Regions from separate parts of the Homo sapiens genome. Here all the other regions are linked to region 5. Evidence: fine-mapped expression QTL. A gene starts in region 5. Each other region holds a variant in brackets. All regions are shown on one strand. Distances are from middle to middle. Region 1 overlaps ADCY3 (adenylate cyclase 3). Region 2 overlaps CENPO (centromere protein O). Region 3 overlaps ADCY3 (adenylate cyclase 3). Region 4 overlaps ADCY3 (adenylate cyclase 3). Region 5 holds the start of ADCY3 (adenylate cyclase 3). Region 6 overlaps ADCY3 (adenylate cyclase 3). Region 7 overlaps DNAJC27 (DnaJ heat shock protein family (Hsp40) member C27).

What was found. PIP is the estimated chance that this variant, and not a neighbour inherited with it, causes the effect.
Region 1: its variant is the best candidate, but not a certain one, in a credible set for the expression of ADCY3 in monocytes (CEDAR, PIP 0.77).
Region 2: its variant is the best candidate, but not a certain one, in a credible set for the expression of ADCY3 in blood mononuclear cells (TOPMed, PIP 0.69).
Region 3: its variant is the best candidate, but not a certain one, in a credible set for the expression of ADCY3 in spinal cord (GTEx, PIP 0.55).
Region 4: its variant is the best candidate, but not a certain one, in a credible set for the expression of ADCY3 in visceral fat (GTEx, PIP 0.53).
Region 6: its variant is the best candidate, but not a certain one, in a credible set for the expression of ADCY3 in whole blood (INTERVAL, PIP 0.75).
Region 7: its variant is the best candidate, but not a certain one, in a credible set for the expression of ADCY3 in whole blood (INTERVAL, PIP 0.50).

What each region holds. Positions count from the first base shown.
Region 1 is chr2:24,857,287-24,861,831 of GRCh38, reverse strand. All of the region lies in intron 3 of ADCY3 (adenylate cyclase 3), which reads left to right. Among named protein-coding and RNA genes, the nearest start is that of ADCY3, 61 kb to the left of the region's middle. The variant A/G (reference allele first, on the strand shown) is at 2,428.
Region 2 is chr2:24,810,145-24,814,144 of GRCh38, reverse strand. The region is part of intron 3 of CENPO (centromere protein O); the gene reads right to left. Among named protein-coding and RNA genes, the nearest start is that of CENPO, 19 kb to the right of the region's middle. The variant G/C (reference allele first, on the strand shown) is at 1,635.
Region 3 is chr2:24,847,476-24,852,020 of GRCh38, reverse strand. All of the region lies in intron 3 of ADCY3 (adenylate cyclase 3), which reads left to right. Among named protein-coding and RNA genes, the nearest start is that of CENPO, 56 kb to the right of the region's middle. The variant G/T (reference allele first, on the strand shown) is at 2,819.
Region 4 is chr2:24,875,541-24,880,085 of GRCh38, reverse strand. The region is part of intron 2 of ADCY3 (adenylate cyclase 3); the gene reads left to right. Among named protein-coding and RNA genes, the nearest start is that of ADCY3, 42 kb to the left of the region's middle. The variant G/C (reference allele first, on the strand shown) is at 2,788.
Region 5 is chr2:24,918,119-24,922,663 of GRCh38, reverse strand. It overlaps ADCY3 (adenylate cyclase 3), which reads left to right and starts at 2,427. Exons shown (of 22, transcript NM_004036.5): 1 at 2,427-2,981; 2 at 3,480-4,351. The coding sequence starts at 3,677. LOC124907742 (a long non-coding RNA gene) reads right to left here and starts at 2,320. Exons shown (of 2, transcript XR_007086246.1): 1 at 2,092-2,320; 2 at 1,206-1,666. RefSeq lists silencers at 1,873-1,962, 1,973-2,182, 2,223-2,282, 2,313-3,042.
Region 6 is chr2:24,881,856-24,886,400 of GRCh38, reverse strand. The region is part of intron 2 of ADCY3 (adenylate cyclase 3); the gene reads left to right. Among named protein-coding and RNA genes, the nearest start is that of ADCY3, 36 kb to the left of the region's middle. The variant C/T (reference allele first, on the strand shown) is at 2,062.
Region 7 is chr2:24,956,607-24,961,151 of GRCh38, reverse strand. It overlaps DNAJC27 (DnaJ heat shock protein family (Hsp40) member C27), which reads left to right. Exons shown (of 7, transcript NM_016544.3): 4 at 3,178-3,342; 5 at 3,987-4,109. Among named protein-coding and RNA genes, the nearest start is that of DNAJC27, 13 kb to the left of the region's middle. RefSeq lists an enhancer at 2,841-3,795. The variant G/A (reference allele first, on the strand shown) is at 2,429.

The DNA of each region.
Region 1 (4,545 bases), 61 kb after region 5:
CACCGGCTGAAGTCAGGGTGGTGAGGTAGGATGGGAGCTGGCTGGGGCCTGTGCATCCTTCCCCTTCTCTCTTCCAGCCAGGACAGAGGTCACTCCCTCCCAAGGCATTGGGGCTGACGTTGGGAGTGGCGTGGGCTCTGGGCTGATTTGACGTTTCAGAAACATCAGCTGACGGGTCTTCGGAGCTGAGTGCAGGCCGGTACTAGAGGCTGCATGACCCCGTTTCACTTTCCTCCTGTAAAAGCTCCTCATGAGAATAAAAATGAGATAATAGATGGAAAAACACTTTGGAAAGGGCCGCAGACAGTCCTGGTATGAGAGGAAACAGAACCTGGTTTGGAAGTGGCTCCAAAGAGCCATTTGAGGTCAGTGTCAGAGCAGGCCATCCCTTACTTACATGTGTGCTTAATGTCTTTTTTAAGAAAATTCTCCATTTAAAAAAATTATGAGTGTCTCCTATAAAAACAATCGTTAATCTACCCTCTGCAAAAAAGGGGCCTCCTTCCAGAATTGAGTGCCCAGGGTCCATGTCTCACTTTTTATTTGGTCAGGTGCTCTTATCTTTTTTTTTTTTTTTTTTTGAGATGGAGTCTCACTCTTTCGCCCAGGCTGGAGTGCAGTGGCACGATCTTGGCTCACTACAACCTCCACCTCCCAGGTTCAAGCGATTCTCCTGCCTGAGCCTCCCGTGTAGCTGGGACTACAGGTGCCCACCACCACACACAGCTAATTTTTGTATTTCTAGTACAGACGGGGTTTCACCATGTTGGCCAAGCTGGTCTCAAACTCCTGATCTCAAGTGATCTGCCTGCCTTGGCCTCCCAAAGTGCTGGGATTGCAGTCGTGAGCCCCATGCTCGGCTATTTATCTTGTTTTCTAAGCTGCCTTAAGAGTGTGCGGCTGAAGGGCAGCCCTGGCCATGTGGCTGTCCCAGCAGGTGTCTCCTCGCTGGGCCTCAGCTTCCTCCTCTGCTGTGAAGTGAGGTGTAGGGATGCGCTGGTGACCTGAGCCCGCTCTCTCTCTTGCCATCCCCTGGGAAGTTGTACCTTCTGTTATGAAGATGACCAGCCTCCTAATGACAGTCAACTCCCAGATGGGTGGGCAGCCAGCCATGGTCCAGGAGGGTGAGGCGGCACAGTCCCTCAAGCACAGGCATCCCTTTCTGCCTCCTCACTGGGGTGAGCATGTCCACATGTCAAAGGGTGCATTGAGGCAACAGAGCATTTGGGTAATGGCAAGGGTCTCAGATTCCAGTGGCTTTGCTGCTTTAACCTCCCTGGCTCCAGTCTCCTTCAGGGAGGTAGTGGAGCCTGCCCTGCCCTGAGGCCTTGTGGATTTGGAGCTCTTGGTGCAGCCCTGGCATGCGAAGCGTCCTCTTTGCCTCTGCCGAACACATATCTGGCTTCGCAGGCAGTGCCATGGCGCTTCCCTGTGGTGCGGGGCCGCCAGGGTGCATGCTGACCTTGGTCCAGCCTCCCGGCTCTGTGGGCATGTGAGGGTAGAGCAGGAGGCCCAGAGGACAGAACTGGAGTTGTTTGTCTTTATTCCCATGTGACCACACTTCAGGGGTTAGTTGGGGACCTTGAGGGTTGCTAAGCACCCCAGCCGCCACCTGGCAACAGGCGGCACCCAGAAAACCCACTCAGCACACACCTGCTGCCAGGTGGAGCTACAAAACTGAGCCTCTCTGAATCATACTCAGAATCACTTCCCAGGGATCGGAACATGGTTGACGGAGGATGTGGGAAGATGGAGGGATGACAGGGGCAGGCCTATGCTTCCTTCACACGCGTCCTGTGTGGTTAACTGGCCCTGTGCCTGGTCCTCCCTCGGAGGTGAGGACTGTCCACAGTGCCCACCCTCAGACAGGAGGATGCTGCAGCCAGGGCACGTAGAGGGAGAGCCCAGGGCAGACTGCACAGGGTCTAGGGTAGAAAGCCATCCCCATCTTCACCCTTGGGATCCTGGGGAGACAGCTGAGGTGGACGCTGGGTGGGTTTCCATTCAGGTCTTGGGGGACTGCACAGAGACACAGCTGCCTCTCCCCACCTCTCCTTCTGCTTTAACCCACGTGCAGGGTCACCTGTTACTAGGGATGGTGTTTTTCCTTCATGCCGGTCTTACAGGGAAGAACCGCCCATTGACCACAAGCGTCAGGCCCCTCTCCTGGGAGCCCCGGAGCTTGGGACACTGGGAGGCTGCCATTTCCTAAGCTTGGATTGTATCTCTTGCTTTTCTGAATGTTCTTCCTCTGTAACCTTTGCCCAAGCCTGGTCACTGTTTCCCCCAAGACCTTTTGCTATTAGGACAAGGTGTCATCAACCCTGAGCCCTGTTCTTATAGGCGCTTGGTAGGGGAGAGGGGAGTCAGAGCCAGAGGCCAGTTGCCTCTTGGCCTGGGGTTGGGCTTCTAGTGCCAAGCCCCACC[A/G]TGCCACTGTTATCCTGGCAACAGTGAGGTCGGGGCAGGGGGACCACTAAGAGTGGGAAGAGGAGACGAAGCTGGTGTCGAGTGGGAGGGCTGTGCCTCTGCCTGTGGATCCATAGCTGCTCTGCGTCTTGCTCGTTGCACCGTGGCTGCATCATGGCATTCTCCGCGTCTAATGTAATGGGTCAAATCCATTGTCTGCTTCACAGGAGACACACAGACACGTCCCCACCCCCAGCATCAGCCTTGCATTGTACTCGCTATCTTCTTCACAGAACCACCCACAAAGATATCTAATATTTTTAGTTTTTCTTTTAGCCTCGAATGCCTCTCAGTGTGAGAAAAGCCAGGTGCGTTCCCCATAATGCGAAGTAGGCACTGGTCCTTCTGTTGGTTCCAACTCTCACCTCTTGGATGTCACAGAATGCTCTTCATTTCAACATTCCAGGACTTAGCAAAACAAATCCACATTTCAGATAATGCAGATGATGAACCCATAGAAAACAGGTTGTCCTAAAGCAGTGGTGGGTTCCTGGTGGCAGTGGGAGGATGTTGGCTGTGTCAGGGTGGACCTGAGCAGAGCTGGTGAGGACAGTCCTGCTGACGGCCCATGCATGGGCTGTGTGGCCTCTGAGCTGGGCTCTGCTGGGCTGTGGCAGGTCTTAAGCCTTTGCCACATCCTCCAGCAGAATTTTTCTCCAAACAGTTGTAGAATTGCTGGAGAACTGTAGAGTTGTAGAATTGTAGAATTGTGCATTGTGGCCAGGGTTGTGGCGCATTTTATATTTATCTGGCTGTAAGAATGAAGTTTTGTTAGTAATGAGTGTAGTTTTATTGAACATTTATTTTGTGCCAGGCCCTGGATGGTGTTTTCATTGGATTATTTCATTTAATAATGAGATCTCTCATTTACCAGCTGGCACTTCCTCCTGGCTCTATTTGGGAGATCTGTTAATTAACAGGAAGAATCAGTTAGGTAGTCCTTGGACCACAGCTGGCCTGTGGGTATCTGTTTTGTTTGACCTTCCCAGAGTGTTAACATTTTCTAATACTTAAACATTTGTACATTCTGGATAAAAACCTGGATTTTTGACTCACTTAGAAAATGGAAAGATCTGTCAACAAAGGTTGCAAGTAAGACTTGCATTCACATTCTAACTGGGTCACTGAGCCCCTCTTGAGCCCAGGAGTCCAACACCAGACATGGCAAGACCTTATCTCTACAAAAAAACTTAAAAAAAATCCAGGCATGGTGGTGGTGCGCACCTGTAGTCCCAGCTACTTGGGAGGCTGAGGCGGGAGGATCACCTGAGCCCAGCAAGATCAGTGTGCAGTGAGCTGTGACTACACTTCAGCACTCCAGCCTGGGAGACAGCGGGACCCTGTCTCTTTAAAAAAAAAAAAAAAAAAAAAAAATTCAGACCACAAGTATTTCAGGACTTTTCTAGGCACTGGGGATACAGTTGTGAGCAGAACAGATTCTAGTGTGGGCAACACACATTAAACAGACGAGTATGTGCTATGTCAGGAGCTGGGAAGGGCTGTGGAGAGAAAGCAGAGGACGGAGCTTAGGGAGTGCCGTGGGTAAAGGTGGAAATTTTGTCGGTATAATTTTCTTGGGCCTTTATGCCCAGGGTGGTACTGAGTTGCTGCATCTGGGTCAAGGAGAGAATGCAAAGGGTCTGCTTTCCGCCAGTCACAGATACGAACCCTCCGCATCCTTCTCAACACAGGGCTCGAGGCAGCTGCTCTCTGCCCATCAGAGTTGGCACAGTACTTGTGACTACAGTGTTCTAGAGCTGCAATAGGTAGCAGTATGGTAGCCACTTGTCATATGTAGCTATTTAAATTAAACTTAATTAATTAGAAAATGTTAGTCTTTCAGTAGCACTAGCCACATTTCATGTGCTCAGTAGCTAAATGTGGCTGCCATATTGGACAGCAAAGATACAGAACATTTCTGTGATTGCAGGAAGTTCTATTAGCGCTGTTCTAGAGGATGGTGGCTTGCCCCTTGGGCCAGGTCTCCTAGTTGACAGCTCGTTAACTCTTCAAACCTCTAAGGAGTAGTACCTGCTCTTTGCCAAATAATTCGTGGTGAGGGCTCCAGGTACCACACAC
Region 2 (4,000 bases), 110 kb after region 5:
TTGATGGGAATGGACAGGACTGAGAGAGCAGCAAGAAAAGGTTGTGTGGAAAGTCTAGGCTAAGCACAGGGTGGACACAACAGGTGGCTGTGAAGAGGCAAGGCTGGGTAAGTTGTGCTTGGACAGTGTGGGGTTTCAAGTGCCAGGGCTCCAAGGCTTACGCTGCTAGCTATGGCCCAGCAGAAGGTACCAGGCTGACCCGCCCTCTGAGAACAACTATGCAAGCTGGATAAAATACCAAAAAGAAACAAGCAAGCAAAGAGAGCAAATGGTTTGAAGGCATTCCAGAAGGATCCAAATAGCCAGGATTGGAGAGTACTGACAAATGCTCTGAGCTGGCTTCCCTGCAGCCTCTGGCCTCAGAGCATTTCCTTATTCATATGCAAGGCACACTGGGCCACATAGAAAGGCATAAACTAGACTCCGCAGCAGTCTCATCCGGAACAAACACTGGACATTAATGGTATCAAAGCAGACTTTCTACGGGCCAAGATTCCATAGAAACAGGAACTCAACGTTCTGCTTGCAATCTTCCCTCCCGGCATTTGCTAATTCCTAAGCTGCACAGGTGTGACTGGGGACTGAGAAACCAAACGGAAAGAAGCTGCTAAAGGGGAAAAAGCCAAGCAGAGATTTTGCTAGAACAAAATGTGGATTTCAGGGCCTGCCAGGGAACAGGAGCCTTAATAGACCCATCTCCAACACACTCCCAAACTTTCAACTGAAGGTCCTAAAAAAAGCTAAGCCCTAGGAGTAAGGGAAACCGGAAATAGACCACCTCAACTGAATAAAGGTGATGTGCCCATACACGATCTACTTGCCAGAAAAACACTAAAATTTCCTCTGGAGGAAGATAACATACTCAGAACCCATATATTTTTCCTTCTTTCTTTCTTTTTTCCAGACAGAGTTTTGCTGTTACCCAGGCTGGAGTGCAATGGCACAATCTCGGCTCACTGCAACCTCCGCCTCCCGGGTTCAAGCCATTCTCCTCCCTCAGCCTCCCGAGTAGCTGGGATTACAGGTGTGCGCCACCACGCCTCGCTAATTTTTGTATTTTTAGTAGAGACAGGGTTTCACCATGTTGGCCAGGCTGGTCTTGAACTCCTGACGTTAGATGATCCACCCGCCTTGGCCTCCCAAAGTGCTGGGATTACAGGCGTGAGCCACAGCACCTGACCTCCGTATATTTTTTCATACACAATACTCATCATTGAATTAAAAAAAAAAAAAAAAAAAAAACTACAGGCATACCAGGAAAGAGAAACAGATGACTGAAAGCCAAGAGGAAAAAGAAGACAACAGAACAGATGCCAAGGGATTCAGCTATTTCAATAATGGGGCATGGCCATTAAAACAGGCTAAAAGATGGAAACCCAGACCAAAGAGCTGGAATCTATACAGAAAAGAATGAGACGGAAATCTTAGAACCAAAAAAATACAGTAACTCAAATTAGAATTTTAATAGATTTAAAAGCCAACTAGACAAATAAGATCTTACGTGGAGTGGAAAGTAGGCATATTTTCCATATCCAGATTAAAGTACAGAGAAAAAAATAAGATTAGAAAATTACTAAGACATAGGTCACAGAAAACAAAAACAAAAACACCCATACATGGGAGCCCCAGAAATA[G/C]AGAAAAACTGAGAAGATGCACTATTTAAAGAGATATTGGCCAATGTTGTAAAACAGATGAAAAACATCAATTAAAGAAGCTTTACAAGCACCAAACAGGATAAAAAAAAAAATCATGCTTAGCCACATTGATCTAAAATTGCTAAAAACCAAAGACAAAGAAAATCTTAAGCCCGAAGAAAAAGACATATTATATTCACAAACATAAGATTAACACCTGACTAATAAGGCCAAAACTTCACACCTGACAAGATACTATGGCCCTAGAAGACAACAGAATGATATAAAGTTTGAAAGAAAATAAATTCTAATATCTAATTATATACTCACCAAATATACTCTTAAAAAATAAAAAACATAGTGAAATAAAGATGTCTTCAGTCAAACAAATATGGAGATTTTACTGCCAGCGATACCAAAAGAAGTACCAAAAGGAGCTACTTAACTGAAAGAAAATAATCGCAGATGGAAATGTGAAAATGAAGAGCACTGAAAAGGGTAAATATGTGTCTAACACTAAAGGAATGTTGACTATACGTGACAAATAAGACAATAAAATACTATGGTAGATTGAGATCCAAATAGATCAGTAATCACATTAAAAGTTCATGGACTTGCCAGGCGCGGTGGCTCACACCTGTAATTCCAGCACTTTGGGAGGCCAAAGCGGGCAGATCATGAGGTCAGGAGTTCAAGACCAGACTGGCCAACATGGTGAAACCCCGTCTCTACTAAAAATACAAAAAAATTGGCCGGGCGCAGTGGCTCACGCCTGTAATCCCAGCATTTTAGGAGGCCGAGGCAGGTGGATCACGAGGTCAGGAGATCAAGACCATCCTGGCTAACGTGGTAAAACCCCGTCTCTACTAAAAATACAAAAAACTAGCTGGGCGTGGTGGCGGGCGCCTGTAGTCCCAGCTACTCGGGAGGCTGAGGCAGGAGAATGGCATGAACCCAGGAGGTGGAACTTGCAGTGAGCCGAGACCGCACCACTGCACTCCAGCCTGGGCGACAGAGCGAGACTCCGTCTCAAAAAAAAAAACAAAAAACAAAAAACAAAAAATTAGCTGGGTGTGGTGGCGGGCATCTGTAATCCCAGCTACTCAGGAGGCTGAGGCAGGAGAATCGCTTGAATCAGGAGGCGGAGGTTGCAGTGAGCTGAGATAGTGCCACTGCACTCCAGCCTGGGTGACAGAGCGAGGCTCCGTCTCAAAAAAAAAAAAAAAAAGTTCATGGACTAAATACTCCAATTAAAAGACAAACATTGGCCAGGCATAGTGGCTCACACCTATAATCCCAGCACTTTGGCAGGCCAGGACCGGCAGATCACTTGAGGCCAGGAGTTCAAGACCAGCCTGGCCAACATGGTGAAACCCTTGTCTCTACTAAAAATACAAAAATTAGCCAGGCGTGGTGGTGCACGTCTGTAATCCCACCTACTTGGGACGCTGAGGCATGAGAATCACTTGAAGCCAGGAGGCAGAAATTGCAGTGAGCTGAGATCTCGCCACTGCACTCCAGCCTGGGCGACAGAGTGAGACTCTGTCTCAAAAAAAAAATAACAATAATAAATAATAACAATAGACAACAATTGTCAAGATGGATTAAAAATATCTAGCTCTATGCTATTTACAAGAAGAATACCTTAAACGTAAGGTCATTTAAAGATTGGAAGCAGAAAGACAGAAAAAACTTACCCTGCAGGCCGGGTGCGGTGGTTCACACCTGTAATCCCAGCACTGTGGGAGGCCGAGGTGGGCAGATCACCTGAGGTCAGGAGTTCGAGACCAGCCTGGCCAACGTGGTGAAACCCCACCTCTACTAAAAATACAAAAATTAGCTGAGCATGGTGGCGAGCACCTCTAGTCCCAGCTACTTGGGAGGCTGAGGCACGAGAATTGCTTGAACCCGGGAGGCAGAGGTTCCAGTGAGCCAAGATGGCACCATTGCACTCCAGCCTGGGCGACAAGAGCAAAACTCCATCTCAAAAAAAAAAAAAAAAAAAACCTTAACCTGCAAACGTTAACCAAAAAAGTTACTATTGTACTAGGATTCATCAAAGTAAACTTTTTTTTAATTTTTAATTTTGTTTTAAAGATGAGGGGCTCTCACTATGCTGCCCAGGCTGATCTCAAACTCCTAGGCTCAAGAGATCCTCTCACCCTAGTCTCACAAACGGCTGGGATTACAGGCGTGAGCCACCACACCCGGCCAATATCAAAATAGATTTTAAGGCAAGAAGTTTAATTAAAATTAAAAGGAATATTTCATAATAAAAAAAAGTCAACTAAATCAGGAAGATACAGTAGTCCTAAATTTGTTGCCACCCAATATATATAGAAACATAGAATAAAAGGGGAAAAATT
Region 3 (4,545 bases), 71 kb after region 5:
ATCACTGTGACAGCAATTATTGCCAAGGAATACGGCTTTAATCGGGTGCTGCGGTAGAGGATATGGGGACTCAGTCTCCAATCCATCTCTCTGACCTGCTAAATCCGGGGTTTACACGGCAGGGAAGAAATGGAACAACGCGCGAGACAATAGGAATGAGGGGTCCTGAGTCTCATTGTCTGGATGTGGTGACCTGGTTGGTGAGTTTCAGTTATTCAGTACTTCATTTGAGAGGCCTGAAGGTCCTTTGCTGAGGAAGGAACTCAGATAAGTAGAAGTTTTAAGCCTTAAGAGCAGAAGGATCCATTTCTATGTTTATTTAAAAGAACAGTCTATGGGACTTTTGGAAAGGTTTTAACCGATGCCCCTGGGCACTGGGGGGACCTTCACATCTGTAGCAGAACAACATTAAAGCAGATGAGAGAACTGGGGTGGGAAAAGCACAAAAACTCACCCATTCCAGGGGTCTCAGAGCCCTGGGTTCAGGGTCTACCGCTAACCCTTTGGGATGTGTAACAGACAACTTCATCTCTCTGTGCCTAGGCTTTGTCACCTGCAAACTTGAGACAATATTGCACATAAATAATACCGGGTTGATGCAGAAGTTTTAGCAAAGGAGAGGGATGATTTTGACTGGGTGGATGGTGTCTGTCACCTGGTGGGTGCTGGGTTCATGAGAGCTACAGAGCGAAGCCAGCCCAGGGTGACCGTTCTGTCTTTGGCTTCCTAGGAGGACCACTGCCTTCCCCCACCCCCATTTTGGCTGTGTGTCTCCTTGGTTCGTGCCTGGCCATAGGTTCCCCCTCCTCAGGTTATGTCCAAGCTGACTAGGAAGTCTGGAGCCAAGCCCAAAGGCCTTGAGGGATGTTCCCTTTCTAAGAAAACTGTGGTCCTTCCAGAGAAGCCGAGGTCAGGGATAGGATCACAGCTGGAGGCAACAGGAAGTTCCATGTTTATTTCCAGTTTAAAAAGTATTTTTAAAAAGAACAACCACCAGCACCCTATAGCAACTTTGAAAAACGTTTCAGGTTTTCCCTAATTCGGTCGTCCAAGTTAAATGAGCCTTTTCTCTTTGCATATAGCCTTCTGCCTTTATTTCTATGCACACATAGATCCCAGCGTCAGCTTCACAGAACACAATTTTGTCCCGCTCTTCTCTCTCTGTACTTTATTGCAATGATAAACAATACTGTTGTTTCATTATGGTCATTCTTAAGGTTGTAGAATCTTCCATCCAGAGGATGTGTCATTTTAATTAGCCATTTGCTGGGTATTTGGGCGACTTACAGTTTTTTCCACAAGGGTTAAGTCAAGTTGCAATGCAGATCACCTTCTACGTATATCTTTTTACTTCTGTTGGATTTGGGGGGATAAATTCTCAGAAGAGCTATTAATGGGTCAAAGGTTTGGAACATTCTTGTGACTCTTGAAACGTATAGCAACTGCTATCTTTGGAAGAGCAGGCTCTGCTTCCACGCTGGGGAGACCAAGCCACATTGATCATCCCTGGGGCCCTGAGCAATCCTAGGCTGCTATGGGTGGCCTCTCTCCCCTGCACTCCTGTCCCCCACTGTGGGACCCATTTGCCAGTTCACCTGGATCCCAGCCTCCTTCCTTCCCCCAGGAACACAAATGAAGGGGTGTCGGAGTCTTTAGCCAGGGCTCTGGAATGGTAATCAGGGATCTTCTGTGTGTGTATGAGCATTTTTCTAGAAGGTCCGTAGCTAGCATCACGCACTCATGAAAGGGGCCAGGATCCAGGAAAGGGTTTAGAACCTCTGAACTCTAAGGGCAAACAAGGCCAGCACCAATCGAGAGGCACCAACAAAGTGGGTGTTAGTGAGGAGGGAGGAACAGACACCCCTGGGCAGGGGCCAGGGGCTCTCTGGAGAGGTGACATGTGAGGTGGGTGTCGAAGGTGTGGGGAGGGAGGAATGTTCCACAGAGAGTGACACCAGAAGCAGAGGACAGGGAGGGGTACCGAGAAGAGGAAACAGTCCAGCTCATCTACCCTAAGGGGCCACAAGGAGAGCAGTGGGGGACAGGACTAGAAAGACAGGTCAGTGCCACCACTGAGGGTGCTGGGCAATGGTGTCGCACAGCTTAGAGGACATCCAGATACCGTGCCAAAGGTGGACTGAATGAGAGGAGCCGGCCGGCACCTGGGAGACACATTCAGAGGCGGTTGCCAGAGGCCCTGAGGCTTGGGGGGTGGCAGGGGGAGGGCCCCTCCCTCCGTGGGCCTTCGTCTCCCAGACCCCCCTCCTCCTTTCCCCTCTGTCAGGTTCCGTGTGTCCTTTCTTCTGCACGCACTGACGTCTTGTTTAAAACTCGTCTTGTTACCAGAATGACTCCAGGTAGACTGTTGGCCTGCTTCACTTTTTGAGCCTGACTATAAGGTTTCCACAAACCACACAGGGAATTGGCAGCCTGAATTTATAAGCATAGCTCCTTTCTTGTTATTTAAGTTTGATTTTCTGCTTTCAGAACATATTTGTGCTCTTAGCAAAGGTTATGGAAATATATAAGGGAAAAAAATGGAAATTCCCCCTGTCCCACCCCCAGAGAGAAGCTCACGGCCGCTTCACTCATGTGGCCCTTCCGAGGCTCCTGTTTTGGGCTCCAGGGCTGCCCTGGTTTTGTGCCTCTGCCGCTACTTTTGTTCTGTATTGGTAGACAGTCTCCGAGACCCCAGCCATACCGGGAGGAGGCTCAGCAGTGTCTGGAGGGAGAACCAGTACTGTGGTCAGGGGCATGGAGCTCCCACAGGACTGGATTGGACTCTCAGGTCCCCAAGGTTCCAAGAGAGCCTGAAGAG[G/T]CTTTTCTGAAGGGACAGAACTCTGAGGTAGACCCAGGAGGGCAGGAAAGGCCTGTGTGGGCTGTGGCTGCAGGAGCCACTGCATGTAGGCTGGGAGGGAGGCCAGCACGGTGCTGTGACGTTCTTAAACCTCACGTTCCACGTCCCTCCCTGCCCACACACCTGACCACGCCTCCCCATGCTCCTCACACATCTGCGCCCTCCTCACCCAAGCAGCACCCTGAATGCACACGTGGCGGGGGGGGCTGAGACTCAAATGGAAGGCAGGGCCCTTCCTTGTATCCCTTTGTTGTCCCACCTGCAGTAAGCAGAGCTCAGGAGACCAGGCTGAGTGACCCAGAGGGTTTGTGCTGACCCTGGCACATCTCACTGGAACTCAACCTAAAAACTTCTGGCCAACTTCAAAGCCCAGAGGAACATTAAGCCCTGTCTTTTTGAGCCACCTGCTGTCTCCACACCCTCAGTCACTCAGTCATACTTTCTATCATGTGACTGTAGGAAAAGCTGGACTATGGTGAGCGCTTCCTGTGGGCCAGGCACTGTTCTAAGTGCTTGCCGGCAATGAATTGTGTCCTTCCTGCTTTCCTGCCTAGGAAACCAAGGCACAGGGAGGTTTAGTATCCTGCCTTATGCCGAGACCAGCTCGGCTGGGGAGACCCTAACCCAGTGGTGCTAGAGAAATTAAAGACACGCACACAGAAATATAGAGGTGTGAAGTGGGAAATCAGGGGTCTCACAGCCTTCAGAGCTGAGAGCCCCGAACAGAGATTTACCCACATATTTATTAACAGCAAACCAGTCATTAGCATTGTTTCTATAGATATTAAATTAACTAAAAGTATCCGTTATGGGAAACGAAGGGATGGGCCGAATTAAAGGAATAGGTTGGGCTAGTTAACTGCAGCAGGAGCATGTCCTTAAGGCACAGATTGCTCATGCTATTGTTTGTGGCTTAAGAATGCCGTTAAGGGGTTTTCCACCCTGGGCAGGCCAGGTGTTCCTTGTCCTCATTTCTGTAAACCCACAACCTTCCAGCATGGGCGTTATGGCCATCATGAACATGTCACAGTGCTGCAGAGATTTTGTTTATGGCCAGTTTTGGGGCCAGTTTATGGCCAGATTTTGGGGGGCTTGTTCCCAACACCTTATAGCCACAGTGAGTGCAGGCAGGGCTGGGGGCTGAGCCAGGCCAGCACTCATGATCCTGACGGCTGCCTCCTCCTGCCCCGCGAGCCTCAAGCACACCAGGGCCGCACACTCCAGTGCGGGCTGGGATCCCCGGGATTACTGACCAGAGAAACCCAGCCCCAGCCCAGTGGGTGCTGCCTCCCACCTGCCTCCTCCAGACTCCTCAGCTCTGCCTGCCCCTCAGGACTCCCAGCAGCTGTCTGCCTTGAGAGGCTGCCCTCAAGAGCTGGTGGGGCCCCATCTCTGGCTTTTCTTGAAAACCTTCCTAGAGGCTCATCTTTTCTGCAAACCCAGAGCTTTTTCCACAATGTCTGGTTAGTTAGGTTCCGAGACGGGTCCTGTCCCACCCAGCACTTCACCCATTTCTTTGCATTGGGCATCCTCTCACCACACTTGACTGGCAGAGAGAGGGGAGTTGCCAAGCACCAAGGCTGCCTAAGTTGCTATCCCTGGGCTGCAGGGCCCTGGGAGAACTGGATGCCACTTCCCAGGCTTCGGTGGAGCCAGGGCAGGGCGTACTGGGATTACTTTGCCTTCTC
Region 4 (4,545 bases), 43 kb after region 5:
TGGCAGATACCCAGCTCGGAAGGGCATGGCAGCAGCACCCCAGGCTTGAGCCTCGTGTTGTATTGATTAAGGTTGCATTTATTGGAGATCTCAGAGTCTCTCTTGGTGCAGCGATGCTTAGAATTTGCCCAAGGCAGCATGGGAGAGTCACTCACTGTCTGCAGACCTTATGACTCCTCCTTCCCACCTGCCCAGATGTTCCAGGTCCTAACTGGATCCTTAGCTCTTGGGGAGCCCCCTGTGCCGCGGCTGTAGCCCCGCCTTGGCAGACACCCATCACAGTTCAGCTAAGGTGATCGTATTGAGGGAGGGGAGCCCTGGCCCCGGGGTAAGGGGGTCTGGGTTCCGGTCTCAGCGCTGCTGGGAGACTAGGGGCTCGGAAGCTTATTTCTCTGACTTTAAGTCTCTTGCAAAATGAGAATAAGAAAACTCTGCCCTGCCTCCTCTTGTTGTGAGAAACAAATAGAATGATGAACATGAAGATTCTTGTAAAACGTCCTCAAAGTGTTATTATTAGTTACTAATTTGCCTTCAATGGAAGCAAAGAAAAAGTCATGAAAGGGGTATTTTGTGCCAAGCCCTGTGTGAGGTATGTGCAGTCTTTCAGTCTTTTTTTTTTTTTTTTTTTTTTTTGAGACAGAGTCTCGCTCTGTCGCCCAGGCTGCAGTGCAGTGGCGCAATCTCGGCTCACTGCAAGCTCCGCCTCCCGGGTTCATGCCGTTCTCCTGCCTCAGCCTCCTGCCCACCACGCCTGGCTAACTTTTTGCATTTTTTTTTAGTAGAGACGGGATTTCACCATGTTAGCCAGGATGGTCTCGATTTCCTGACCTTGTGATCTGCCCACATCGGCCTCCCAAAGTGCTGGGATTACAGGCATGAGCCACCGCGCCCGGCCCAGTCTTTCAGTCTTACTGGAACAGCCTGTGGGGTTACTGCAAGGGTGAGGAGCCATGTCAGAGAGGCAGGCGACTTGCTCCAGGGCACACAGCCTGCGGGCAGCCGTGTGCAGGTCTATGTGACTGCGAGGCCTGACCTCTTCCCGCCCCTCCATCTGCCAGTTGTTGCCTATGGCTTTCTATGTGCCAGTCCCGGGTGCTGGGGAGCCAGCAGGGAAACAACCCGTGTCCCGGCTGCATGGAGTTTGCTTTCCAGGCGACGAGGCGAAGGAGTGAGGACAGAGAAGGGCAAGTGCAGAACATTCTGTGCTGGGCCTCAAAGCAGGACTGGAGAATGAGTAGGGGTGGGCAGGGAAGGCCTCTGAGGGGTAGGGACATTTCATAGGGACTTAAGGAGCCACTGCAGCAGCCTCTACAGGCGTCTGCAGCGAGAGTGGCCCCAGAAGTGGGACCCATCTGTGCTGAGTGGCGGCCTCACAGGCTCTGGCTGGGCCTCCTTGGGTGGGAGAAGGCTGGTTGCCTTTGGAGGGGCCACCTCCCCTCCTCCTTCCTGCCCCATGGCTGCTAGGAGACTTTTTCCTAAAGCATCTGAGTAAGTTTTAATGACGAGTTTCCCGTGCGGCTGGCCTCCAGCCGCAGAACGTCATAGGTCTCTGTGGGCGACACGGACACTGCACCCTGAGCAGCTTTCTCTTGCTCAGCTTCTTCTCCACAGTTCCAGAGTGTTCTGGAACCTTCAGGCTGGAATGAGCTTATAGGAAGAGATTGGTTTGGGCAAGAGAGCCACCAAACCGCCTCCAGTGGGGTGACTTCCACTCGACAGTCCCACTTAGAGCAGCCCCATTTCCCTACGGGTTGTTAGCAAACGTGAAGGATCTTGCGATGCGTAAACTTCCAGGAGGGAGGATTTTGTAAAGGAATGTTCTCATGGTTGCGTTCTGAGCCGGGATATTAGAAACACTTTATCAGGCTGTCATGGGTTAGATGACACTTTAGTCCAAGTGTTTATCCATTTGGGAGATGCATTTTATTATTCTAAAAATGTTGTATATTTTAAAAAAGCAGAACAATTCTTTTGAAATAAGTTATTTCCAGGAAAACTTTAGGATTAAGAAACTTGTAAAAAGATCTATAAATAGAGACCCCAGGGGCTGTGGACCTCTGTCACCACAGAGCCTGATCGTGCTGTGCAGTCTAAAGGGGACCACGGGGCAAGAAGAGGTGACTTTGGTGGTGTCCAGAGCAGGCTTCTCAACCTCATGGGTTTGGTGAGTCACCCCAGGACCCGGGACTGGGCAGTGCAGTCAGCTCCCAGGTACAGCTGTTGCCCTTGGGCCCAGAAGTAAGGCTTCGAGCGCCAGCTGTCTCGCCCCAGGCCAAGGAGCCTCTTCCCTCTCTGTCTGGTGGTCAGATGGTGCCTGTGTGTGTGCAGAACACTTTGAGCGGGAGCCCTGGGAATAAGTTGCTCTTCATGATTCCAGAGAGGGAGGAGTCTCCTGTGTGCCACTCACCCAGTGTGGTGTCTGAGCTCGTCTTCGTGTTTCAGAGAGACCCCCATCTTTCTTTAATGCTCACGTCTTCGTGAAGCCATCCTCAGCATCACCCTGATTGGATGTGATCTCCCCAACTGTTCACACCTCTCCTCCTGCCTGTTGGTCTGCTCTGTCTGATGTTCTAGATCACTCCCAAAATGTACCCTGTCCGCTGTCCTCAGGGGAGCGACCGAGCCTTGTTCCTCTTTGTTCTTCAGGCGGGGGTGGACTGGGGTAGGTAGGGGATGCTCACTGGAAGGCTAGAAGCAGCAAAGCTGGGTCCCAGGAAGGATCTAGGGCCAGAAGGTCATGTTTACTGATGGCTTCTGCTCAGCTCGCCTGCTGACCAGAGGCTGAAG[G/C]GGGGAGGGGTGGGTGGTGAGTCTGTGAGTGTAGAGTCGTAACCCACATCTGTGCCACCCAACAGCGTGAGGCTTCCTGGGCACCTAGGGCTGGATGGGGCCAGGATGGGCTGAGGACACAGATGTGAGGACAGTGCCCACCTTCCCGCACACAGTGGCAGGGCCATGTGTGGGGGACATGGGGGAGGAGGAGGGGCTGCCTTGGGTGCAGCAGTACAAGTGATGGAGCAGATGGGAGGTCTCTGCAGGGCTCCCAGGTGGACAGGAGCCTGCCAAGTGGGCCAGGTTGGGTAGAATGGGATGAGGGGTTTGCAAAGTGGTGGGTGTGGGGAAGGGCCACCCTGGAGGGAGAAGAGTTCTAAAAAGGAAGGTCACTTCTCACTCGTACCTTGGAGTGGGAACACCGGAAAATTAATCCCAGATCAGCAGAGCTCAAGGCCTGGTGCAGAGAAACCCATGTGTCATGGTGACGTGAAAGACCTATTTCAGATTCTCGCTAGGGTTCAAGTTTTCCCCAGAGGCAGAATTTTTTCCTGGGTCTTCAGTTCTTCACCTGTAATGAGAGGCGATCCTGATGGATGCATTTTAGAGGAACGGCAGCTGCCCTGCTTACCCAGCATCAAGTTCTTCCTGCGGCCACACCTGCCTGGCCCTGGGGACAGGGACGATGTCACGCCACCGTCCCTCCTAGGGCCAGCTCAGGGCCCTGCTCATGCTGAAAGAGTGAAACTTACTTTTTACAGACATATTTTGAGGGGCACATTCATTTTGCTAAGTGAGATACACATTTATGAATATGAAACAGGAAATTTCTGAATCTTATTAGCTTAGAGATAATGGCCACCACTGTGTATGGAAGCTGTGGAAATGATAATGGCCACCACTGTGTATGGAGGCTGTGGAAAATCTGCAAGTATTGTTTCAGATTTAAAATGCGTGCAGCTCACACCTAAGTGCTATAGGGCTAGTATCTTCGTGACTATCTAAATTTCAGTTTTAAAAATCTCTAGGCCAGGTATGGTGGCTCATGCCTGTAGTCCCATTGTTTTGGGCAACTGAGGCAGGAGGATCACCTGAGCCCAGGAGTTCAAGACTAGCCTGGGCAATATAGCAAGACCCCATCTCTACAAAGAATAAAATTAGCTGGGACAAGTGATGTGCACCTGTCATCCCAGCTACTCAAGAGGCTGAGGTGGGAGGTTCGCTTGAGCTCAGGAGTTTGAGGCTGTGGTGAGCCCTGAATGTGCCACTGCAGTGCAGCCTGGGCAACAGAGTGAGACCCTGTCTCTATCTGCACCACCGCCCCCCTCCCAAAAAGAAGTCCACACTCCTTTCTGGGAAAAGATGGGGTTGTGAAATATGTAAATAAGTTGAGGAGTGCTTTAGGGAGGGGTTTTGAACCATAGAATAATGAGATTTGAATGCTGGAGGAGATCTCACCCTCTAGTTTTAACACCTTGTTTAATTTAATCTCAATTCCTTCTGTAAAACCAGAGTGACATCACCTGCCTCAGCACTGGTTGTAAAGTTAGAGGAGATGAGGCTGATAAAGTGCGTGCTTGTGTCTAGGACTTAATGTTGTGATGCTGAGGTGAGGATACAGGTGAGGAAACTGAGGCCGGGAGGGGGACTCCCCACCCAGGCTGCACGTCAGTGTTGCCTGGGAGCACTGCTGCCACCCTCGCCTCCCGTCGCTGCGTGAGCACCCCAGGGTGCTGCCACCTTCCCAGGTGACCCTGTCGGGAGCCTCTCCCACCA
Region 5 (4,545 bases):
CCCACAGAGGGTGCAACATGGTGTCTCTTGTGCCAAAGCAGGACCAAGCACAAGATTTATCAGCCTTTTAAAAAACATTAGCACATCTCTCCCCCAACCCCCACTTTTTTTTGAGATAGGGTCTCATTCTGTTGCCCAGGCTGGAGTGCAGTGGTACGATCTTGGCTCACTGCAACCTCTGCCTCCTAGGGTCAGGCGATTCTCCCACCTCAGTCTCCTGAGCAGCTGGGACTTCAGGCACCCGCCACCACGCTCGGCTAATTTTTGTATTTTTTGGTAGAGACAGGGTTTTGCCATGTCAGCCAGGCTGGTCTCGAACTCCTGACCTCAAGTGATCTGCCTGCCTCGGCCTCCCAAAGAGCTGGGATTACAGGCATGAGCCACTGCGCCTTGCCGTACATTACATCTCCCTTTGTAAAACATAAAAGTCATGTCCTCTTTAACATCATGTGACAATTCAAAATAAATGTTTAAACCTCCAGCAAAGTCCAGGCATGATGGCTCACACCTGTATTCCCAACACTTTGGGAGGCTGAGGCAGGCAGATCACTTGAGGTCAGGAGTTCGAGACCAACCTGGCCAACATGATGAAACCCTGTCTCTACTAAAAATACAAAATTTAGCCAGGCATGGTGGCAGGTGCCTATAATCCCAGCTACTTGGGAGGCTGAGGCAGGAGAACTGCTTGAACCCAGGAGGCGGAGGTTGCAGTGAGCTGAGATGGCCACTGCACTCCAGCCTGGGCGACAGAGTGAGACTCTGTCTCATAAATAAATAAATAAATGCCTTCCTTTTTAAAAAACAAAAACAAAAAACAAACCACAAATAACTCCCTCCAAAAAAAATCCCCCCCAAAACCCAAAAACCTCCAGCAAATTAAAACAATGGGGCAGCCCAGAGCAGTGGCTCATCCCTGTAATCCCAGCACTTTGGGAGGCTGAGGTGGGCGGATCACTTGAGGTCAGGAGTTCAAGACCAGCCTAGCCAACATAGTGAAACCCCATCTACTAAAAATACAAAAATTACCCCGGGCTTGGTGGTGTGTGCCTGCAATCCCAGGTATTCAGGAGGCTGAGGCAGGAGAATTGCGTGAACCTGGGTGGTGGAGGTTGCAGTGAGCTGAGATCACAACACTGCACTCCAGCCTGGGTGACAGAGTGAGACTCAGTCTCGAAAAAATAAAAAATAGAAATAAAATAAAACAATGGGGCAAAGTTTTGCTTTATTTAAATTACCAAACTCCTATATCTGATGTTAGGTCCCCTACCTTTGGAATCAAAGCCCTGCGAAGTATGGGCTGAAGGTGGCGCCTTTTCAGACAGAGTGTGAGGGAACGGTAGAAACAGCAGTGGCAGGATCGATTCTCTAATGGATCCATTCCCCGAGGGATGCAAGGTGATGCCTGAGGTTCTGGAAGGGGTGCCCGCGGATAACTCTCAGGGGCATGGGGTGGCAGCTCCATCCAGGGTCTGGATAGCCAAGTTTCTCTCCCCTCTGTTCATTCCTTCAGCTCTCCCCAGGGGAGATGACCCCCTATTGCTGCTGGCTGTCCTCAGCACTTACCTTCCCACACATGCTTTTGTCCCTTTTGTCCCAAAACATTCTATCTCTTTCCTCTTCCTTTATTTAAATTCCCAAAGCCTGTAGTTGATCTTAGCACGGTGTTCTGTCAAATGCAAGGAAAATAATTTATACTATGGTGTAAGAGACTGATAGGTTTAACTATTCAAAGGAGCATTCGCATCTTTAAGGGACAGTTTGTGAACTCAAACACATCTCAAACGGGTAGAATGTGCACGGGAAATCTCTTCGAAGCAGGGTCTCAGGAACTCTTCCAGTTCCACGTGTGTAGTGCCCACCGGGCCACCGCCACCCGCCTCCTGGGAGCAGGACAGGGCTCCGCTGCCGAGCCCCTCTGCGGAAAGCTCAGGCCCGGCGCTCCGGAGTCTGGGCTCCCGGGGTGGGCGGGGATACTTAGGCCCCACGTGCCCCGCGGCGGAGCGGTCCCCAAACCTGAGCCCTGGCCTCTGCCGGCCCGGAAGGAAGCCGCGGCGGAGGAGGGGGCGGCGGGGTGCCCCGAGCGCGCCTCACCTGCGGGCGGGCGCGTCCCGGGCTTCCATCCTCCTAGACCGGGCCTCCTCGCTGGAAGGGGTGGATTCGCCCCAGCCCTGCCGCCCACCGCCCACCGCCCACGCCCGCGCCCGCGCCCGCGCTTCCACGCAGCCATCGCCCCAGCCCGCCGCCCGCGCCGGATCGGGGGCCGCCCGGGCCCCTCCACCTCTCGCCCGCGCGGGTCCTGGGACCGCCGCCCGGCGCCTCCCTCGCCGCCCCACTCCGGAACGCGCCGCCGAGAGGGCGGAGACTGGGGCGAGGGAGGGGCCGCCCCGCCCGCCTCCCGCCTCCCGCCTCCCGCCTCCCGGGGCCTGGAGCGCGCGTGGCCCCGGAGCCGCCGGCGCCGCGCGGGGAATAGCTGTGCAGCACGCCGAGCCCGGACTCGGCTGGCTCGGCTCGGCGCGGGCGGGCGAGAGGATGCTGGCGGGCTTCCCCGGGCTCGGCCCGCGCTCCCGCCGGGGAGGGCCCCGCGCGCGCCCCTAGCAGCCGCCGCCGCCGCGGGTGCAGGGGAGGGGTCCGGAGAGCCGCGCTCGCCGCCGCCCGCGCCTGCCGGCCCCCGCACGGCCCCTGCCCCTGAGCCTCAGCCCCAGGGCGGGCGCGCTGGGCCGGCGCCCACGGATCTCCCAGCCCTCGTCGCCGCCTCCTCCTTCCCCCTGCGGCCGGGCGCCCGCGGATGCTGAGGGGCAGCCCTGCGCCTCTCCCGGTCGGATCCCGGGCCTGACGGCGGGAGATCGCGCTCCGGCCGGGCCCCGAGGCGCTGCCGGGGCGGCGCGGCTCTGCGGGGAGCAGCCCTCGGGCGCGCCGAGCTCTCCCGCCCCAGCCCGCGCGGGGACCGTCCCGGAGCACGCGGTGGCCGAGTTCCCGCACAGGTAAACGCAGGGGCAGGGCCAGGCTTCCGGGGGGGAAGACAGCGCCCCGAGCGTGGGAAGGGGGCCGGATCGGAGCCCGAGCCTCCAAGGGTTTGGTGGAAAAAGGAAGTAAACAGAAGGAAGGCTCAGGAATCCCCCACGATGGTCCTGATTTCTTTCCGGCACATTTTATTTACAGCTTCTAAGGACTGGGCCTGGAGGGAATTTAGGTGAGGAAGTCGGGGACTGAGAAAGAAGAGATGACAGAGAGAAACCGGTTACCAGGGATGGAAAGGCGGCTAGGCCCTTCCACAAGCCAGGGACAGGAAATTGAGTGTCTGGCGTGGACAGGACTAAGTGTGCCTGCGGTGGGCGGTGGTGTGAGCCGGGGGTGGCAGGGAAGGCCCTGGGTTGGGAGGCTCTTGCAGCAGAGATCCTTTTATGAGGGTTAGGGCGGGTCATGGGGAAACCGCAAGGTAGGAGGGAAGAGGTGCTTCTACTCAGCAATGCCCTTTTCAGTTCTAGCTGATCAGTGCTACCTGTGCTCTGGAAACCCGCTCTGCGTTCCTGCTGGAGGTGGCCTCCCCTCCGCCCCAGACAAGAAGAGGCCCTCAGCCCTCCCCCGGTCTCAGAGAGCCCTGAGAGGAGGCCCAGTCCAGAGCTCTTCCTCCGTTCCCAGTCCACTTCTCTAGGGCCAGTAGCAGACACCAGCCAGTATGCCGAGGAACCAGGGCTTCTCCGAGCCCGAATACTCGGCCGAGTACTCAGCCGAGTACTCCGTCAGCCTGCCCTCCGACCCTGACCGCGGGGTGGGCCGGACCCATGAAATCTCGGTCCGGAACTCGGGCTCCTGCCTGTGCCTGCCTCGCTTCATGCGGCTGACTTTCGTGCCGGAGTCCTTGGAGAACCTCTACCAGACCTACTTCAAAAGGCAGCGCCACGAGACCCTGCTGGTGCTGGTGGTCTTTGCAGCCCTCTTTGACTGCTACGTGGTGGTCATGTGTGCTGTGGTCTTCTCCAGCGACAAGCTGGCTTCCCTCGCCGTGGCTGGAATTGGACTGGTGTTGGACATCATCCTCTTCGTGCTCTGCAAAAAGGGGCTGCTCCCGGACCGGGTCACCCGCAGAGTGCTGCCCTACGTGCTGTGGCTGCTCATAACCGCCCAGATCTTCTCCTACCTGGGCCTGAACTTCGCGCGTGCCCACGCGGCTAGTGACACGGTGGGCTGGCAGGTCTTCTTTGTCTTCTCCTTCTTCATCACGCTGCCCCTCAGCCTCAGCCCCATCGTGATCATCTCCGTGGTCTCCTGTGTGGTGCACACGTTGGTCCTGGGGGTCACCGTGGCCCAGCAGCAGCAGGAGGAGCTCAAGGGGATGCAGCTGCTGCGGGAGGTGAGTCCTGCCCACTGTCCCCCCACAGCGTCCTCTCCTGCAGCTCTCACCAACTTGGGACCTGTTGGAGTTGCTGTTTGCTTTGCCTTTGAGTCAAAATGTGTCCTGGGGGCCTCCGGGGCTCTCACCTCTCTCCCTAGTCCCTGCCTTTTCACCCCTGTGCCATTACCCGGAGTCTGCCTGTGCTTGGCCCC
Region 6 (4,545 bases), 36 kb after region 5:
TGGAGGAGGCGGGGTTCAGCTAGATTTCGAGGGGGAGGCGGAAGGCGGCCAGGTGGGGAGGGGCATTCTAAGTGCGTGCTTCCCACATTGGGGGTGCAGGGTTGTGTTTGCTTTGGCGCATGTGAAGCCACAGGATGACCGTGGAGTTGGCATTTCCTTTCATCCTGTGTCCTCCATGTATTCATTCCTTCACCCAGCAGACAGCGTGCTGGGTGCTACTGAGTGCTGGGAACACAGTGGGGACTGGGACAGATGTCGTCCCTGCCCTAGTGGCACTTACACTGAAACAGGTGGAGACATCTGTTTGGCAAATATTTTTAAACACTTAAAAATACAAATACAAACATGGATTTTATTGAACAGAATGCAGAATCCACATATATTAGCAAGTAAAATGAGAAGCTTCCTCCCCAGGCACTTTCGTGGGGAAGTTTAAGAGCTCTCAAAATAGGGGCTACAGCATGTGCCGAGGTCAGGAGGCCAGTTGGTGACATGCTGAGGACGTCAGCTTGGCTAAAGCAGATGGTTTACCTCAGGCAGCTGTGGGGGCGGGGTTTAGATTCAAGTTCATGGTAAAGCCCAGAGTATATAGGACCCTGAATGCCAGAATGAAGATTTTGAACTCTTGGACAATTGGCAGCTATTGAGGTGTTTTGAGCAGAAGGTGGTACTTGCAAAAATATTATTTTGGAAGATTAATGTGTTCCAGGGTGGATTGGCAGGACCAGGGAGATGAGTCTGTCCCCAGCCCTGTGGGAAGTAAGGGTGTGAGCCAGGTGGTGGCAGCAAGAGTGAGGAAAAAGGAGACCCAGAGGCTTTTACCTGGAAAGACCAGCTGGGATGAAGGACCTGCTGGAGGCACAGAAAGGAGCTCAGTGAGAGAGAGCAGGCTGGCGCTGGTTCAGGCGTTCAGCCAATGTTACTGAGGACCTGCGCCGTGTTGGGTGCTGTGTTCCTAGCTGGGGCGTAGTGTTGGCAGAAGTGAGACCTGTGGATCAGGGCTGGTTAGGGGAGACCATGACAAGCTTGGGTGTTCACATTGACTTTAGCGTTTTCCACTCCTGGTCCCGCCATAAGGTCTCCTGGAAACTTTTCAGCAATACCAGTGTCTGGGCCTCTGGTTCCACTTTTGTGGACTCTGCCTGGGCATAACTCCCCAGGTGATTCTAAGGCACAGCCAAAGTTGGGATCTGCTGAGTGAGGGTGAAGTGAGCACCTGCAGGTGGTGCTCATCAAGACAGTGGAGGCTGAGGAACTGGAATTTAGGAGAGGTGATAGTTCACCAGGGCCTTGAACTTGAATTTTGGAATTTGGAAGTCTCTGTCATGTGACTAAGAGAGTGCATTGAGAGGCCTGGTCCATGACCTGCCATGGTCCTTCCAGACCAGAGTCTCTCAGGACAAGAAGAAGGAAAATTGGAAAGGACTTTAAATCTGAATTGAAAACCAGGGAACTGAATTAAACGCAGGAGACATGAAGCAGCATCAACAGGTGGAAAGCACCGCCGTGGGTGGAGCTTTGAATGTGTGGGAGACATGCTGGTCAGAAGGGAAAAAAGATGGTAAAAGGGTACCTAACTCAGGGTGAGGGTGAACCAGGGATCAGAAGACTGTTAGAAAATGAGGGCTGGGCGCTGTGGCTCACACCTGTAATCCCAGCACTTTGGGAGGCCAAGGCGGGCAGATCACTTGAGGTCAGGAGTTCAAGACCAGCCAGGCCAACGTGGCAAAACCCTGTCTCTACTAAAAATACAAAAATTAGCCGGGCGTGGTGGCGGGCACCTGTAAATCCCAGATACTCGGGAGGCTGAGGCAGAAGAATCGCTTGAACCTGGGAGGCGGAGGTTGCAGTGAGCTGAGATTGCACCACTGCACTTCAGCCTGGGTGACAGAGTGAGACTCCGTCTCAAAAAAAAAAAAAAAAAAAAAAGATTATTAGAAAATAAAGACAATAAATGCATAGAAGAAAAATAGGGGATAGGCATAGGAAGATGGCCTAAGGCAGCAGCATGAGAGTTTGGTTTAAAGACCCAGGAAGGCTGGAAGCTCTTTGCCTTGTTTT[C/T]ATATCTACTACTCCACCTTGAACAGTGATTCTGTAGAAGAGAATCACCTGGAGGAGGGCACAGATGCAGATGCCGGGGATTCTGTGGGCTAGGACCCTGGAATCTCCCATTTTAACCAGCTCCCTTTGGGACGCTGGTGCACCTGGCCCAGAAACACTGAACTGGAAAAACAGCAACTCAGGAACAACGCCAGAAGGGTTGCATCAGAACCAGTGACTGGAAAAAAAAAATGCTGAATGTCCCTGGGAAGGCTGTGAGAGGCTGTAGGGAAGAGGGAATTGCTGAGAAACCCCTAGAAGGACTAAAGGGGAGAAAAAAGATGTATCAAATCCCCAGGAGAAAGCTGTGATTCAGGAGAGCAGATGATGTGGGTTTTTGTTGCAGACGGTGTGCAAAAAGTTTTACTCTCAAAATGTCATTTTCTGAATTGAAAGGTAGGAAGTTTTGGAATCCAAAGAGTTTGCTGTGTTCCATGGCCACAAACACAAGAGAATAAGGGCTTGGTGTTTCTGTGTCATCAGTGATCTGTTCCCTTCAAGTTTTTACATTTTAAGTTTGTGTGATGATCTATCTGGATTCCTAAATATCTTCTGTCTCCAGATTATACACTTGTCTTCCTCCGAGCTGGTACATTTGCTTTCAAGTTCATCTAAAGTTAGTTTCAGAAAGTCAGGTGATCTGTGTGATAAATGTACCCAGTGTTGCTTATAGGTAAGAAAGCATGAGCAAAAGCATGGAGCCCTTTCATTCCTGCCTCACTTAGTATTGGCCGTCAGTTAGAAATTGGTTTCAATTTTCTTTATCGTCCAGAATCTATATGCTTAAATATATGTGAAAGCTCTGTGTTTTCAGAACATGTGAAAACTCCAACTGAGTGTGGCCAGCCCAAGCTTTCCTTCCTCATGGGGGCCTTTGCTGACTTCTCCCCTCTCCCTCAGAATCGAGCTGCACATCCTCTGTTCACTGCTAGCTTCTTTTTTTTATTTTTTTTGAGACAGAGTCTCTCTGTGTCGCCCAGGCTGGAGGGCAGTGGTGAGATCTCAGCTCACTGCAACCTCCGACTCCCGGGTTCAAGCGATTCTTCTGCCTCAGCTTCCCAAGTAGCTGGGACTACAGGTGCCCGCCACCATGCCCAGCTAATTTTTATATTTTTAGTAGAGACGGGGTTTCACTATATTGGCCAGGCTAGTCTTGAACTCCTGACCTCGTGATCTGCCCGCCTCTGCCTCCCAAAGTGTTGGGATTACAGGCTTGAGCCACCGCGCCTGGCCCTTTTTTTGAGACAGGGTCTCACTCCATCATCCAGGCTGGAGTGCAGTGGTGTGATCTCGGCTCACTGCAACCTCTGCCTCCCGGGCTCAAGCAGTTCTTGTGCCTCAGCCTCCCAAATAACTTGGGACTACAGGCATGTGCCACCATATACCCAGCTAATTTTTGTATTTTTAGTAGAGACGGGGTTTCACCAAGTTGCCCAGGCTGGTCTCGAACTCCTGACCTCAGGCGATCCACCCGCCTCGGCCTCCCAAAGTGCTGGAATTACAGGCATGAGCCACGGTGCCCGGCCACTGCTAGCTTCTTTACTGCCAGTAGAGTCAGCTCCTTGAGGTAATTTTATAATCTCCAGGGCCCAGTATGGGGTCCGCCACTCACCAGAGTATTCAATAGAGTTGAACTGACCACTTTGTAAAAAGACATGAGACCAAACATGATTCGGCTTTAAAACGGACTTCTTTAAATAGAATTGGAATTATTTGGCCTAGAGAAAGAGACCAAGGTGACTAAATAATGAGGTCACATCAATAAGAGAAGACAGGAAATGCTGTGAGCAGATGTTTGTGTGTCTAGTGAAGCAGCAAGAGCAGTGGGAGCTTTTGAGGAGTTTTGTGGTTCTCAGTCATCTGGAGTAACAGATCCTTAGGAGAATCTGACAAGAGCAATGGACTTGCTTCCCAGAGACGGGCCAAGTGTGATTTCTGCCCTACTTTAAGGGCTCACCAACTCCTCCAAAGCCTAGTCCAAGTGAGTAATCCCTGGGTTAGGATAAGATGCTACATTTGAGCTGTCCATTCTTGCATGGAAATGGGGAGGTTGACCAGATGGCCTTCTCTGGTTTTGACCATCTACACCCCTGAAACGTGGGCCTTCTGGGTGGGTGCATTGATCAGGCTGTTGTGTCTTTATGTTCAGTAAGTATCAGGAGCATTCTCCTCTTAGCCCACAAACTCTACAATTGACATAAAAATAAATCTACTTGTTCACACCATTGCTTCAGAGTTCATTATTCTCTGGTAGAAAAGGTCAAGAAAAAGTTCATTGTGAACACTCAGGAATCAAAAAGGAAGAAGGCGTTGTTCCAGGCCAGGGTTTCTTGACGTTGGCTCCGTTGACATTTGGGGCTGGATGGTTCTTTGTGGTGGGGGCTGCCCTGTGCAGTGTAGGATGTTCAGCAGCATCCCTGGCCTCCGCCCACTAGAGGCCAGTAG
Region 7 (4,545 bases), 38 kb before region 5:
TTCATTATGGCAAATGAGCATCAGCTCATATAGCCCGTAACAGCTCTGTCAGCCCGTAACAAGAGAGTCAGCCTGTCCTTTGAAGCTTTTGAAGCCAGGCATCGACTTTTCCTCTCTAGCCTTGAAAGTCCTAGATATCATCTTCTTCCATTAGATCTATCTATTCCAAGCCTGTTTCATCTGCATTGAAAATCTGTTGCTTTGATTAGCCACCTTCATCAATGATCTTAGCTAGATATTTTGAATAACTTGCAGCACTACATCAGCATGTGCTGCTTCATGTTGCCCTTTTATGTTACGAAGATGGCTTCTTTCCCTAAACCTCATGAACCAACAACTGCTAGCTTCTGACTTTTCCTCTGCAGCTTCCTCATCTCTCTCAGCCTTCATGGAAATGAAGAGAGTTAGAGACTTGCTGTGCATTAGGTTTTGGCTTAAGAGAAGGTTGTGGCTGGTTTGGACTTCTATCCAGACCACTAACGCTTTCTCCATATCAGCAATATGCTGTCTCACTTTCTTAGCATTCATGTGTTCACTAGATTAGCATTTTTAATTTCATTCAAGAAGTTTTCCTTTGCATTCATAACTTGGCTAGCTGTTTGGTACAAAAGGCCCAGCTTTTGGCCTATCTGTTTTTGAAATGCCTTCCTCACTAAGCTTAATCATTTAAAGGTTTTGATTTAAAATGAGAGATACATGACTCTTCCTTTTACTTGAACACTTAGAGGCCGTTGTATTGTTATTAATTGGCCTACTTTCAATATTGTTTTGTCTCAGGGAAGAGGAAGGCTCCAGGAGTGGGAGAGAGATGGGGCAACAGCCATTTGGTGGAACAGTCAGAATATAGACAACATTTATTAAGTTTGCTGTCTTAAATGACCTTATATGTTCATGGTATCCCAAAACACTTAAAATAGTAACAGATATCACTGATCACAGATGATCGTAACAGACATAATAATGATGAAAAGTTTGAAGTATTATAAGTGTTACCAAAATGTGACACACACATAAAGTGAACACACACTGTGGAAAAATGGCATCAATAGACTTGCTTGACTTAGGGTTGCCACAGATCTTCACTTTGTAAAAAAACACAATATGTACATACTGTGCAATAAAGTGAGGTGTGCCTATGTGCCTTACATAGGTGCAATAAAGTGAGGTGTGCCTGCATCTGCTAGGCCCTGTGGGTGACACAAGGGAGGATACATGAAGATGATGCATGTCTTCACATTTCTTCTAGTGTAGGAGGGAAGACAGCTGGATATGCTACTAACTGTAAAACTGGGCAGGAAGTGATGGCACTATGAAAGTACAAAACAGTATGGTACTCCAGGGGACATAGAGATTACATTCTGTTTTGCAGGAGTAGGGGGCTGGATGGTGAGGAATGGAACAGAGAAAGCTGCATGAAAGATACAGCATTATAGCCAGGGCTTGAACAATTAAAGATAAAGAGGTATCTGTTTCCAGATGGAGTTAGGAAGGCTTGGGCAAGTTTGGGGAATGAGAGATTCCCCAGTTTGAAGGTCAGGAGCTAGTGGGAGGATAAGACTGGGAAGGTTGGTGGAGGACTGATCAGAAACTTTTAACATCATTTGAGAAAGTTGGAACTTTGGAGAATAGTTTAAGAAGGAAGAAGTTGAGGGGTTTCCTGTGTGCATATTGAATTTGAGATTCCAACAGGACATTCAGCTGGAAGAATGTTGTGCTAATTAGAAATGCAGGTCTGGAACCTCAGAGGAGAGGGCTCATCTTGGAGATTCTCACAGTTGAAACTGTACAAGTGGTTGATGTTGCTGATTTGGGAGGAAGGATTCAAAACGAAAGGAAGAAGGCATAGGACAGGATTTGGGGGATTTTGGTGGTAAGCTGGAGTGGGAGCAATAGAGAGAAGGGGAGTTGGTGAAAGAGAATTTAAGAGCCTAGGGAATGTGATGTATGGGAGCCAAGGCAGTGAGAGTTTTAGAAAAGAAGAGAGAGCCCGTCGTTAACTGCTGTAGAAGGGCCAAGGACCATGAGTACTGAGGGAAAGGACTGGTGGGCTTCATCATCTTCAGTTCTTTCTGATTTTGTTGGTTTTAACTTTAGGGGATAGCTTCTTAGGTTTCTGTAAACAAATAGGAGCACTTAATATCCTTGGTCCAGATATCTGCCTATGCCCAGAAACCCTACCCGATGTGTATAACATGTTTTCATTTCTTACTACATAGCTTGTGTGGGTCTGAGTACATTTGGGAATTTTGTGAAAAGAACATATAATATATGGGCTCTGTCAGGATTCTTTCTGGAACTTTGTCCCGGAAACCCCATGTGTCAATGCTGCTCCTTAACTTCTCTCTGGCCCTAATGTTTGAGTATGCCCATATTTCATGCTGCCTCTTCCCACATTTGGAATGAAGCCCAGAGAATGAATGCAAGGAAG[G/A]AAGGGGAAGGTGTTAAATAGACATTGTTTTTCAGGCACCATGCTAAGTACTTTGCCTGCATTATCTCATTTAACCATCATAATAACCCTGTGAAGTAAGTAGTATTATCCCCATTTTACAGATGAGGAAACTGAGACGCAGAGAGGTTAAGTGACTTGCCCAAGATCACAAAACTAGTAAGTAAGTGTGAACCCAGATCTGTCTGACTCCAGAGCCTGTGCTCTTTTCCATTGTATCACACTGAGGCTCTGAGTTTGGAGTTCTAAAGTTGGTGTGCAGACCCGAGAGTCAGGGAAGCTCTGCCTAGCACCCTGGGGGAAGCCAGCTTTGGGATGTGATTTATAAATGGCTGTACCCATTGCTGACACTTATGTCATTTTGGCCTTAAGTTCTTTTGAATTGCTCACTCACCTTCCTAATTCTTCCTAAGAAGAACTTTATATAATTGATGTTCTTTTAAGGTCTACTATAATTAAAGACTGATTGCCTCTAGGGAGTGGAACTGGAGGTGGGACGGGGTGGGGCAGGAGGCTGTTGTTTTCCATTGTAAGTCCTTCTATGCTAATACATTTTTAGAATGACATTACTTTGATTCTATAAAAAACCCTCTAATGACCAGTAGAAACAGATACAATAGCAAACACTAAGAATACACAAAAGAACACACTTTGCCAGGTTAATGACTGTGAGATACATTCTTATAACATCACAAAAACTACGTTTTGTGTATCTGTCCTTTTATTTGAAGGTTCGAAATGAGTTTTACAAGGACACACAGGGTGTGATACTGGTCTATGATGTTGGGCAGAAAGACTCCTTTGACGCCCTTGATGCGTGGCTGGCAGAAATGAAGCAAGAGCTTGGACCTCATGGAAACATGGAAAATATTATATTTGTAGTTTGTGCCAACAAGGTAACCCCTCTGGAAATGGTGTGTTCAGATTTCTAGGGAAAGAGTGGAGCTTTGAGTGTTGGGAAACAAAAAGAAAAGAAAAATTCCTTATTGTGTAATATGGAAATCAATAACCTTTCAAAACATAATGTCCCTAAGACAAAAACAAAACAACACAGCAGCCTAAAACCTGCTATATCAAAATTTGTATACATTTTTTTTTTTCTGGTGCCATACATGGGGAAGGATGTTGGTGACTGAGTGGGAGCAATGGTTCCTAATAATCAGACTCTGACCCGACTGGAGTAGGGGCATTAATTAGGTGATGTGGACTATGGAAAGGTGTGAAAAGCAGACTATGGCCCCAAGGGTATGGCAGATGTCATGAAGCCAACTTTCACAGAACTGAGTAACAGCTGTTTTCCCAAGGGATCAGGTGGGACATTGCAGCAGCAGGCACTAGTCCTGTTGCCATAGAATATCAGTCTACATTCAATATTAAGTTTTGTTTCTGTCCCTTTGGTCCTGGTAATTTTACACACTAGTGCAGGCATTTACTAAGAATAGCTTTGCCTTAGTAAAGGATTGACAGAGACCCTCACTGGGTCCATTCTAGTAGGACAAGATTGTAATCTTCTCTCTGTCCCCCGCCCCTTCTATTTCAGATTGATTGTACCAAACATCGCTGTGTAGATGAAAGTGAAGGACGTCTTTGGGCTGAAAGCAAAGGGTTCCTGTACTTTGAAACTTCAGCACAAACTGGAGAAGGCATTAATGAGATGTTCCAGGTAAGCTAGCATTTTGTTGTTTTAAGGTTTGTGTCAAGGCCACTGTGCCAATTTTCAGTTTAAATTATAGGAAGCAAAAAAGTAATAGGAATTTCTCATTAGAATAAGCTCTTTCTTTTCAAAGAATCTAGTGAGATAGAAATAGAGAAAGGGGGAGAGAAAGGAAGAGAGAATGAGAATGAGTGATCTGACTGCTGTCTATTTTAGATGAGACTTAGCTGATCACCAGAATTACCTGAGGAAATTCTTAAAATACATACTTCTAGGCTTCAGACCTACTGGAAGCTTATGTTGCGATGGAGCCCAGGAATCTATATTTTGAAAAAGCTCTCTCTCCAGGCGATTCTGAAGATCATCAAGTTTAACAAAAGTTATTATACACTGCTTAAGCAGGACAGAGATTTTCTTCAAAGCTACCTTTGGCTAATGGTATTAC